Regions from separate parts of the Homo sapiens genome. Here region 1 is linked to region 2. The links come from fine-mapping of genetic effects on gene expression. A gene starts in region 2. The other region holds a variant in brackets. All regions are shown on one strand. Distances are between the middles of the regions. Region 1 has its middle 14 kb from the start of MKNK2. Region 2 holds the start of ZNF77 (zinc finger protein 77).

Evidence for each region. PIP is the estimated chance that this variant, and not a neighbour inherited with it, causes the effect.
Region 1: its variant is fine-mapped to the expression of ZNF77 in spinal cord (GTEx, PIP 0.93).

The regions. Positions count from the first base shown.
Region 1 is chr19:2,062,362-2,067,730 of GRCh38, forward strand. No RefSeq gene overlaps it. Among named protein-coding and RNA genes, the nearest start is that of MKNK2, 14 kb to the left of the region's middle. RefSeq lists an enhancer at 1-491. The variant G/A (reference allele first, on the strand shown) is at 2,097.
Region 2 is chr19:2,942,115-2,947,483 of GRCh38, forward strand. It overlaps ZNF77 (zinc finger protein 77), which reads right to left and starts at 2,857. Exons shown (of 4, transcript NM_021217.3): 1 at 2,724-2,857. The coding sequence starts at 2,726. RefSeq lists silencers at 2,553-2,632, 2,773-3,022 and an enhancer at 3,093-3,252.

The sequences.
Region 1 (5,369 bases), 880 kb before region 2:
GATCAATGAATCACAAGTGAGGGGCAGGAAACGAGATTGAAGGACCCACGGTGTAGACAGCAGGGGAGGTGACCCCACCAACCCACCCATCTGGCACCCTCTACGTCCCAAGTCTGGAGTGTCCCAGTGGCAGCCCTCAGGGCATGGATAGGCTGGAGGCCCGGCACCCCTGCCGAGGCTAGCCTAGAAGAATGGGGGTGGCCCCTTTGGCCATGGGAAGTGGTACATTCACAGATCGCGGGAATGACATGGGCATCTTTGGGGGCTGTGATTCAGCCGACCACAGAGTGTCTCAGGCTTCCCCCAAGGATCCCATCTTCACCATGTACCGCCCTCCTGCTGGGACCTTGGGGTCTCCTGTCTGCGGCCAGCCCAGGACCCTACGAGTTCCTCATTCCTGCTTCTCTCAGGAGAGACCTTTTAAAGGTCTGCATTTCTCTTTGACTTTTTTTTCCGCAATAGTTTTCTTCATTATAGAAATACACACGCAGCCTCACTCTGTGGCCCAGGCTGGAGTGGAGTGGCACGATCTCAGCTCACTGCAATCTCTCTCCGGGTTCAGGCAGTCTTGTGCTTCAGCTTCCCCAGTAGCTGCACGGAGACACCCAGCTAATTTGTTTTGGAGACGGAGACTCACTCTGTCGCCTGGGCTGGAGCGCAGAGGTGCAATCTCAGCTCACTGCAACCTCTGCCTCCTGGGTTCAAGTGATTCAACTGTCTCAGCCTCCTGAGTAGCTAGGATTACAGGTGTGCACCGCCACACCCAGCTAATTTTTGTATTTATTTGTTTTTATTTTTTATTTTTTTGAGACGGAGTCTCGCTCTTTCGCCCAGGCCGGAGTGCAGTGGCGCGATCTCGGCTCACTGCAAGCTCCGTCTCCCGGGTTCACGCCATTCTCCTCCCTCAGCCTCCCGAGTAGCTGGGATTACAGGCGTGAGTCACCGCGCCTGGCCTATTTATTTTTTGAGACGAAGTTTCACTCTTGTCACCCAGGCTGTAGTGCAATGGTGCGATCTTGGCTCACTGCAACCTCCACCTCCCGGGTTCAAGCAATTCTCTTGCCTCAGCCTCCCGAGTAACTGGGATTACAGGTGCCCGCCACCACGTCCAGCTAATTTTTGAATTTTTAGTAGAGACAGCGTTTCACCATGTGAAAGGCTGGTCTCGAACTCCTGATCTCAGGTGATCTGCTCATCTCGACCTCCCTAATTTTTGTATTTTTAGTAGAGACGGGGTTTCACCATGTTGGCCAGGCTGCTCTTGAACTCCTGATCTCAAGTGATCCACTGGTCTCAGCTTCCCAAAATGCTGAGATTACAGGTGTGAGCCACAGCACCCAGCTTTATTTTATTTTTTTTGAGACAGGGTCTTGCTCTGTTACCCAAGCTTAAGTTCAGTGGCCTGATCTCGGCTCACTGCACCCTCGACTTCCTGGGCTAACGCAATCCTCCCACCTCGGCCTCCTGAGTAGCTGGGATTACAGGAGAGTGCCTCCATCCCCATGTAATTTTTGTATTTTTTAGTAGTGACGGAGTTTAACCTTGTTGGTCAGGCTGGTCTTGAACTCCTGACCTCAGCTGATCTGCCCATCTCAGCCTCCCAAAGTACTGGGATCACAGGCCTGAGCCACTGTGCCGGCCGCTATTGTCGTTTCTGAGTGACATCATCTTGGCGATGGTTTTGATTTGCATTTCCCTGACAGCTTGTGTGTTCCGTCTTTTCTCACCTGGATGTTGACCAACACGTGTGTAAATGTTCAAGACCCACATATTTTAAAAAGTAAAAAGAAACAGATGACATTGGCTGGGCACAACATGGCCAACGTGGCCAAACCCCATCTCTACTAAAAATATAAATATTAGCCGGGTGTGGTGGCACGCGCCTGTAATCCCAACTACTCAGGAGGCTGAGGCAGGAGAATCACCTGAACCCAGGAGGCGGTGGTTGCAGTGAGCCGAGATCGCGCCACTGCACTCCAGCCTGGGTGATGGAGCGAGACTCCGTCTCAAAAATAAAATAAAATAATAAAAATAGAATCTTAAAAATTGCCCGTCCTTCTGAGGCCTCCTGCACAGTCATAGCGCCCTGTGGCCCC[G/A]CGGCCAAGCGGGAGGAGCAGGCAGGGGAGGTTGCTTCCAGGACGCCAGGACACTGGCTGCAGGTGGAGAGAAACAGGAGGGGCGGCTGTGGTGAGCCGGGGCTGGCATCCACCTCCTGGCGACGCGACCTACCAGGGACCTTGCCAAGGGGCCTCAGTCAGCCTTCTGTTGATGACACGCTGAGGTCAGGACCAGGGCCACAGCCTGTGTCTGACAAGAAGCAGTTTCCAGTTATTTGGTGAATCAGTGCTGGGGGCCTGGCCTGAGGGGTCCAGGGAGTCACACCTGACTCCATGTCCCTCTTTCCCACAAAGTAGGAGAGCGCCATGGGTCACCTGCCCGAAAAGGCAGGTCCATCCTCTGCCTGCAGTCAGAACTCAGGGGGATCCCTGAGGCCGGCAGCAGAGCCACGAGGACGCAGTGGCCTGGCGGCGGGTGGGGCAGCGCGGGAGCTGCTTTCCAGGCCAGACAGACGGAGCCGTTCTCCTGCCGGCCTTCCCGGGAGCAGGATCCCATCCAGTGATGCGTAGGCCTGTGGCGGGGACAAGGAGGGCGGGCAGCTGCTTTTGTTTCCCATCTGCTTCTCTGGCTTGGAAAGAAGGGCAGACAGCTCCAGAAATATCGAGGAACGTGGGCCACGCCTCCGGGGCGGCCACCAGGCGGTGGCACCAGAAGGTCAGCAGAGACAGAGCATAAACAGCAGCCACACAAGACACCCACGCGGGACACGGGCCGTGTGCGCACATGGGCACCTGATGCCTGGTGGCCGAGAGGACAGCACGGCCTGAACACCCGGCAGGAGGGGACGGATGGTCCATCCACACTGGAACATTATCCCATGACGAACCGGAGCCAGGCCACAGCGTGAACCTGGAGGACATCATGCTCAGTCACAGATGCCAAACTCAGAAGGCCACGCAGTGTGTGATCCCATTTCTATGAACTGTCCGGGACAGGCCCATCCAGAGACAGGGAGGGGATGTGTGGGTGTCGGGGAGTGACGGCTGATGGGGACAAGGTTTGTTCTTCTCGAGGTGATAGAATGCTGTAGAATTGGAGGTGGTAGTTGCACACTTTTCTGAATGTACTACATGCGACTGAATTGTACACCTTAAATGAGTGAATTGTATGGAATGTGAATTACAAATCAATGAAGATGCCCAGGCCGGGTGCGGTGGCTCACGCCTGTAATCCCAGCACTTTGGGAGGCCAAGGTGGGCAGATCACCTGAGGTCAGGAGTTCAAGACCAGCCTGGTCAACATGGCGAAACCCAGTCTCTACTAAAAATACAGAAATTAGCTGGGTGGTGGCTTACGCCTGTAATCCCAGCTACTCAGGAGGGTGAGGCAGGAGAATCGCTTGAACCCAGGAGGCAGAAGTTGCAGTGAGCTGAGATGGCGCCATTGCACTCCAGCCTGGGTGACAGAGAGAGGCTCTGTCTCAAAAAGTAAGTAGGCCGGGCGTGGTGGTTCACGCCTGTAATCCCAGCACCTTGGGAGGCCAAGGGACGCAGAACACAAGGTCAGGAGTTCAAGACCAGCCTGGCCAAGATAGTGAAACCCCGTCTCTACTAAAAATGCAAAAATTAGCTAGGCGTGGTGGTGGGCGCCTGTAGTCCCAGCTACTCGGGAGGCTGAGGTAGAGAAGTGCTTGAACCCGGGAGGCAGAGGTTGCAGTGAGCCAAGATCGTGCCATTGAACTCCAGCCTGCTCCGTCTCAATAAAAAAAATAAAAAATAAATAAGTACATACATAAAATGTTTATTAAATCATTTACCATGATTTTTAAATGTTAATTTGTATTTTATATAATGTATTTCAGCACATGAAGTTTTCTGACTAACGTATCTTTCCTGTACATTTTCCCTCTGGTCACAATGAGTGTACTTTGTCCCATATACTTTTTTTTTTTTTTTGAGACAGAGTCTCGCTCTGTCACCCAGGCTAGAGTGCAGTGGCACTATCTCAGCTCACTGCAAGCTCCGCCTCATGCCGGATTAATTTTTTTTTTTTTTTTGTATTTTTAGTAGAGACGGGGTTTCACTCTGTTAGCCAGGATGGTCTTGATCTCCTGACCTTGTGATCCGCCCGTCTCGGCCTCCCAAAATTCTGGGATTACAGGCGTGAGCCACCGTGCCCAGCCTGTCCCATATACATTTGGATTCACCTTGATCATTAAGACTGCAATTGCTGGCCAGGTGTGGAGGCTCATGTCTGTAATCCCAGCACTTTGGGAGTTGAGGCTGGTAGATCACAAGGTCAGGAGTTCAAAACCAGCCTGGCCAAGATGGTGAAACCCCGTCTCTACTAAAAATACAAAAAAATTAGCTGGATGTGGTGGCGGGTGCTGGTAGTCCCAGCTACTTGGGAGGCTGAGGCAGAAGAATCGCTTGAACACAGGACGCAGAGGTTGCAGTGAGCCAAGATTGTTTCACTGCACTCCAGCCTGGGTGAAAGAGTGAGACTCTGTCTCAAAAAAAAAAAAAAAGAAAAAAAAAAAAGAAAGGCCCGGCGCAGTGGCTCACACCTGTAATCCCAGCACTTTGGGAGGCCGAGGCAGGTGGATCACAAGGCCAGGTGTTCGAGACCAGCCTGACCAACATGGTGAAACCCTGTCTCTACTAAAAATACAAAAATTAGCCGGGGGTGGTGGCAGGTGCCTGTAATCCCAGCTACTCAGGAGGCTGAGGCAGGAGAATTGCTTGAACCTGGGAGGCGGAGGTTGCAGTGAGCCGAGATGACGCCACTGCACTCCAGCCTGGGCGACAGAGCGAGACTCTGTCTCAAAAAAAAAAAAAAAAAAAAAAAAGGATTGCAATTGCTTTTTCCTCCTGGTTTGCTTTATTTGATATAATTATGCTGGCTGGGAACAATGGCTCACATCTACAATCCCAGCACTTTGGGAGGCCAAAGAGGGAGGATCGCTTGAGGCCAGGAGTCCAAGATCAGCCTGAGCAATGTAGGGAGACTTCATCTCTACAAAAAAGAAACACAATCAGCTAGGCATGGAGGCACATGCCTGTAGGCCCAGCTACTCAGGAGGCTGAGGCGGGAGGATTGCTTGAGCCCAGGAAGTTGAGGCTGCAGTGAGCTGTGATTTGTGCCACTGCACTCCAGCCTAGGCGACAGAGCAAGACCCTGTCTGAAGAAAAAATTATATATATACATAAAAACTTTGCCTAAGCTTCTGCTTCTGCCAGTCTATGTCTTTGTTACAGCAATTTTATGGGGACATAGTTCACATCTCATAAAATTCCCCCACTAATGTATAC
Region 2 (5,369 bases):
AGGCTGGAGTGCAGTGAAACAATCTCAGCTCGCTGCAACCTCCGCCTCCCCGGTTCAAGCGATTCTCCTGCCTCAGACTCCCAAGTAGCTGGGATTGCAGGCACTTGCCATCACACCTGGCTAATTTTGATATTTTTAGTAGAGACGGGGTTTCCCCATGTCAATCAGGGTGGTCTTGAATTCCTGACCTTGTGATCCGCCCACCTCAGCCACTCAAAGTGCTAGGATTACAGGTGTGAGCCACCGCGCCCGGCTCTTTTTTTTTTTTTTTTTTTTTCCAGACAGGGTCTAGCTCTGTTGCCCAGGCTGGAGTGGAGTGGTACAGCCTCAAACTCGTGGGCTCAAGCGATTCTCCCCCCTCAGCCTCTCAAGTGGCTGGGACCACAGGTGCGCATCCCCATGCCCGGCCTCATTATTTTACATTTACTAAAACCTGGGGCTGAAATAGGAACAATACCAATGCTGAGCTGGACACAGACGAGGCTGTTCGCAGCTGTCAGGTGACAATGTTGAACTGACTTCAGCTCTGTGCTCCTGGAAACCAGCAAAGGTGAAACCCCGTCCTGCTGTGCTCTGGAATTGGGACAGCCAGGACCCTCCCTTCCCATACGACTTAGATAAGATTCACGCAGATGACAAGGCCAGATTCAGACCCTCCGAAATCCCATTCTTTGTCATCAGAAATGATTCACTAGGTTAGGTGTGCCCAGGCTGGAGTGCAGTGGTGTGATCATGGCTCACTGCAACCTCTGCCTCCCGAGTTCAAGCAATTCTCCCTGCCTCAGCCTTCCAAGTAGCTGGGATTACAGGCACACACTACCACGCCCGGCTAATTTTTGTATTTTTTAGTAGAGATGGGATTTCACCATGTTGGCCAGGCTGGTCTTGAACTCCTGACCTCAGGTGATCCACCTGCCTCAGCCTCCCAAAGTGCTGGGAGTACAGGCATGAGCCACCGCGCCAGGCCTAGCCAACTCTTCAGATGCCTGCATACTTGACGGTCACAGAGCTCTCCCCCTGCAGCTGTCTCCCTGTGGCTACAGCATTAGTCCCGCAGCTCAATCATCAACTGTCCCCATGCCCCTGTTGCTTATACCCCCACCCCACTGCAATAGAACCTCAAGCCTCTGGCATTACTCTCCTGCCTCTAATCCAACTAACCCTTCTCCCTATTGCAACAGCCCCTTCTCCCCCTCCCCCAATACCTCGCAATAATCCTTTTTCATAAAAGTTTCCTTACTACGTTTGGGTTTACACAAGCTTGACCACATGTTCGCAGCCTCCCGTTTCTTCCCCAAACTTTACTCAGCCTTCTGTCCTCTCCGCAGGCCCCTGAACTTTGGCCCCCCCGAGTCTGAGCAAGCAGTAAGTGTGGAGTCCCCTGTCACCTCCCCTGAGCTAGCTGACCACGAGGAGGTACATTTACTGTCAACCTCCTTTCTGCTTGTCCCCTAAAACGTTCCTCCAAACCTTTTCTTGTGTATGAAAGTAAAGCCTTTTCCTGGTTGATTTTGAGACCTGGCAGGTTTCGGAGGCTGGGGCTTATCCCTATTTTTCTCTCTCCTTCTCTAGCCAGGATTTTTTTTTTTTTTTTTTTTTTTGGTTTTTGTTTTTGAGACGGAGTCTTTCTCTGTCGCCAGGCTGGAGTGCAGCGGCGCCATGTCGGCTCACTGCAAGCTCCACCTCCCAGGTTCACGCCATTCTCCTGTCTCAGCCTCCCTGGTAGCTGGGATTGCAGGCGCCCGCCACCACGCCGGGCTAATTTTTGTATTTTTAGTAGAGACGGGATTTCGCCATGTTGTCCAGGCTGGTCTGGAACTCCTGACCTCAGGTGATCCGCCCGCCTCGGCCTCCCAAAGTGCTGGGATTACAGGCGTGAGCCACCGCGCCCGGCCCAGGATTTTATTATTTGACAGGCTCCAGGACAGGGCACCACCTCCTCCTTGGCAGACCTTCCCAAACTGACCACCAAGCCCCTGACGGCTCCTGCCCTCTCCTCCCACTCTCCCCGATCCCCTGACTGCCTCTACTGTCCCCCAACACATCCCTCGAGCCCGACTCCCTTTACTGTCCCCCCAAACTTCCCTCAAGCCCCTGATCGCCTCTACTGCCCCCCTTAAAGTGCCCCTGAGCCCCTGACTGCTTCTGCTGTCCCCTCGAGCTGCCCCCAAACTCCCGACTGCAGCTACTGTCCCCCTAAACTGCCTTCGAGCCCCTGATCACCTGTCCCCCAAAACTGCCCCTTCAAACCCATGACCGCCTCTACGGCCCCCTCAAACTGTCCCCGAGTTCCTGACCGCTGCTATTGGCCCCCTAATCTGCCCTTGAGCCTGACTCCCTTCCACTGAACCCCCAAACTGCCGCCGAGCCCCTGACCGTGTCTGTTCCCGCAAACTGCCCCTGTGCCCCTTAAACCTCTACTGTCCACTTAAATTGCCTCAAGCCCCTGACCACCTCTGCTGTCCCCACAAGCTCTCCCCAAACTCCTGACCTGTACTGTCCCCAGAAACTACCCCTCGAGCCCCTGACCGCTTTTGCTGTCACCCCAGACTGCCCCCAGCCCTACCCCTCGGCCGCTGTGACCACGTCCCCGGGGCCCAGGCGCTCGTCGTGCGCCGCCCCGCGCGTCCCTCAGCTTTCTCCGGCTGCGAACTCGGGCGGAAGCCGGTTCCTGCCGCCCCACCTCGCCCTGGGCCCGGGCTCGGCTCCCGCCCGGCACTCACCATGTCCCGCCCGCTCCTGGGCTCTCCAGGGTTAGCGCCCCGCGGTCCAGCGACCGGCGCAGGTGAGCACGACAGGACACCTGAGCCGCTCGGGGTAGGCGGGGAAGCGCGCAAGGCAGAGGGGAACTCGGCTTACCGTCCTCGGGGTCTGATTGGACAGATCTCGGGAAGTGGAGACTCTGATTGGACAGTGCTGTCGACTCCGCACCCCTGATTGGAGAATTCTCCAGTCCGTCCCCCTAGCGCCCTTGATTGGGCAGGGCTCCGCTTCGGATTAACGTCTCTGATTGGACAGTTCCCTAGGCCCCGCCCCTGCCTGTCCTGATTGGATAATTCTCTCCTCAGTGACGGGCTCGTCGAGAACACGCGTGGCTGACCCTCTAGCCGGGCAGCCGCGGATCTGGGAGAACTCACTCCAGTCCAGGGAGGGCGCGGCGTCCTCCTCCCTGACTGCACGGCAACTCCAGACTCAGTTTCCCCTCGGAGCGGCCCCTCGTGCGGGGAGGAGAGGAAGGGCACGGAGTCCCATGGGGCGGAGTCCTGCGTGGGGGCGGGACCCGCGTGCGTGACGTCACCGTGCTGTCCCGCGTGGGCGCGGACGCCTGGGGTCCAGAGACCTGGAGATCTGGAGACCAGACGACGAGGCCCCAGGAGGCCGGACCCCACCAGGCGCTCCCTGTGTTCTTAAAACTCTCGGCCGGGCGCGGTGGTTCACGCCGGTAATCCCAGCACCGTGAGAGGCGGAGACCGGCGGATCATCAGAGGTCAGGAGTTCAAGTCCAGCCTGACCAAAATGGCGAAAACCACTTCTCTCCTAAAAATACAAAAATTAGCTGGGCACGGTGGCGGGCGCCTGTAATCCCAGCTACTCCGGAGGCTGAGGCAGGAGAATCGCTTGAACCCAGGAGGCGGAGATTGCAGTGAGCCAAGATCAGGACACTGCACTCCAGCCTGGGCAACAAGAGCGAAACTGAGTCTCAAAAAAAAAAAAAGCAGCCCTCCCACAAACAGAACCACGTAAGGTCATGAAGAGAGAGGTCTCACATTTATATGCTTAATAACGAAAAAGACTCTACAAAAACCACAGGCTTAAACAAAAAATACTTTTACAGGGACACTCAGACTGGTGTGACCCTTGTTACTGATCTTTGTAGACAAGGATAATTATTTCTGAAAAATGATGTAATCCTCATTTAAAATTTTTTTTTTCCTTTATAAACCTTTGTCCCAGTCTGGGCAACATGGCAAAACCCCATATATACAAAAAATACAAAAATTAGCTGGGAATAAAGGAGTGTGCGCCTATGGTCCCAACGACTTGATAGGCTGAAGCAGGAGGATCGCTCGAGCCCGTGGGGATTGAGGCTGCAGTGAGCTGTGATCTCACCATTGTACTCCAGCCTGGGCAACAGAGACCCCCGTCTCAAAAAAATGAAAACCAAAAACAACCTTTGTCTTCCTTTACCTCCCTGAATAAGCACATAGTTTGCTATGCCGCGCATATTCCCACTGCAATGAACTGTTACCACCGTTTTTAGACAGCCTGTTATTTAGGTCGACACAGTAAAAACATGAATTACGACAATTATGTTTGTATGTAAAATGGCAAGCGATATAGAGTTTATACTTCTACTCTGTCTCAAGCTGGAAAGTCTTTTCGGAGATGAGCAGTCGCGTTCCAGGCTTTAGGAATTGCGGCTCAACTGAATAAAAGTATTCAGAATTTTCACGTCGAGTTCAAATTTATTTAAACTTCTATGATTATTTTCTCAAATGAGTTAAAATAAGAATTCAATTACCATAGGAACAGTACAGCCTTTTACTTTAAGAAATTCTCTAGGGCCGGGCGCAGTGGCTCACGCCTATAATCCCAGCACTTTGGGAGGCTGAGGCAGGTGGATCACCTGAGGTCAAGAGTTCGAGACCAGCCTGGCCAACATGGCAAAACCCTTGTCTCTACTAAAAATATAAAAATTAGCCGGGCGTGGTGGCACATGCCTGTAATCCCAACTACTTGGGAGGCTGAGGCAGGAGAATCACTAGAGCCCGGGAGGCGGGGATTGCAGACCCAAGATCGCACCACTGCACTCCGCCTGGGTGACAGAGCGAGACTCCATCTCAAAACAAAAACAAACAAAAAAACGCCATTTGAACGACACGTTTTGTTTCCCCCCGCTTTATTATTTTTAAAAAGTACCATGGTGTACACATTGCATTACAATTGTTTTTGTGGCTCAATGAAAAAAATAAATCCTCCACCTCTCTTCATCTTAATAGGTGACTTCCTTACTCCTTACAGATGTAAGATGATGTAAGCTGATGTAACAAGGTCTCTCTAAATAGACAGTGGACTTGTTTCCAATCTTTTGCTACTCAAAGCTTGTCTTATGTTGCACCACCATGCCTGGCAGATTTTTGTATTTTTTGGTAGAGATGGGGTTTCACCATGCTGGCCAAGTTGGTCTGGAACTCCTGACCTCAAGTGATCCGCTTGCCTCAGCCTTCATCAATGGATATTAATGAAGCTTAGGATACTCACATTGTGTCAAAGATAAGAGGCAAGGAAACTACAAAGAAATTGGAAGTGATAGGAAACAGTGGAATAACTGTCAGAGAGGAAGCAGTGGGAACAAAAGACAGGAAAGA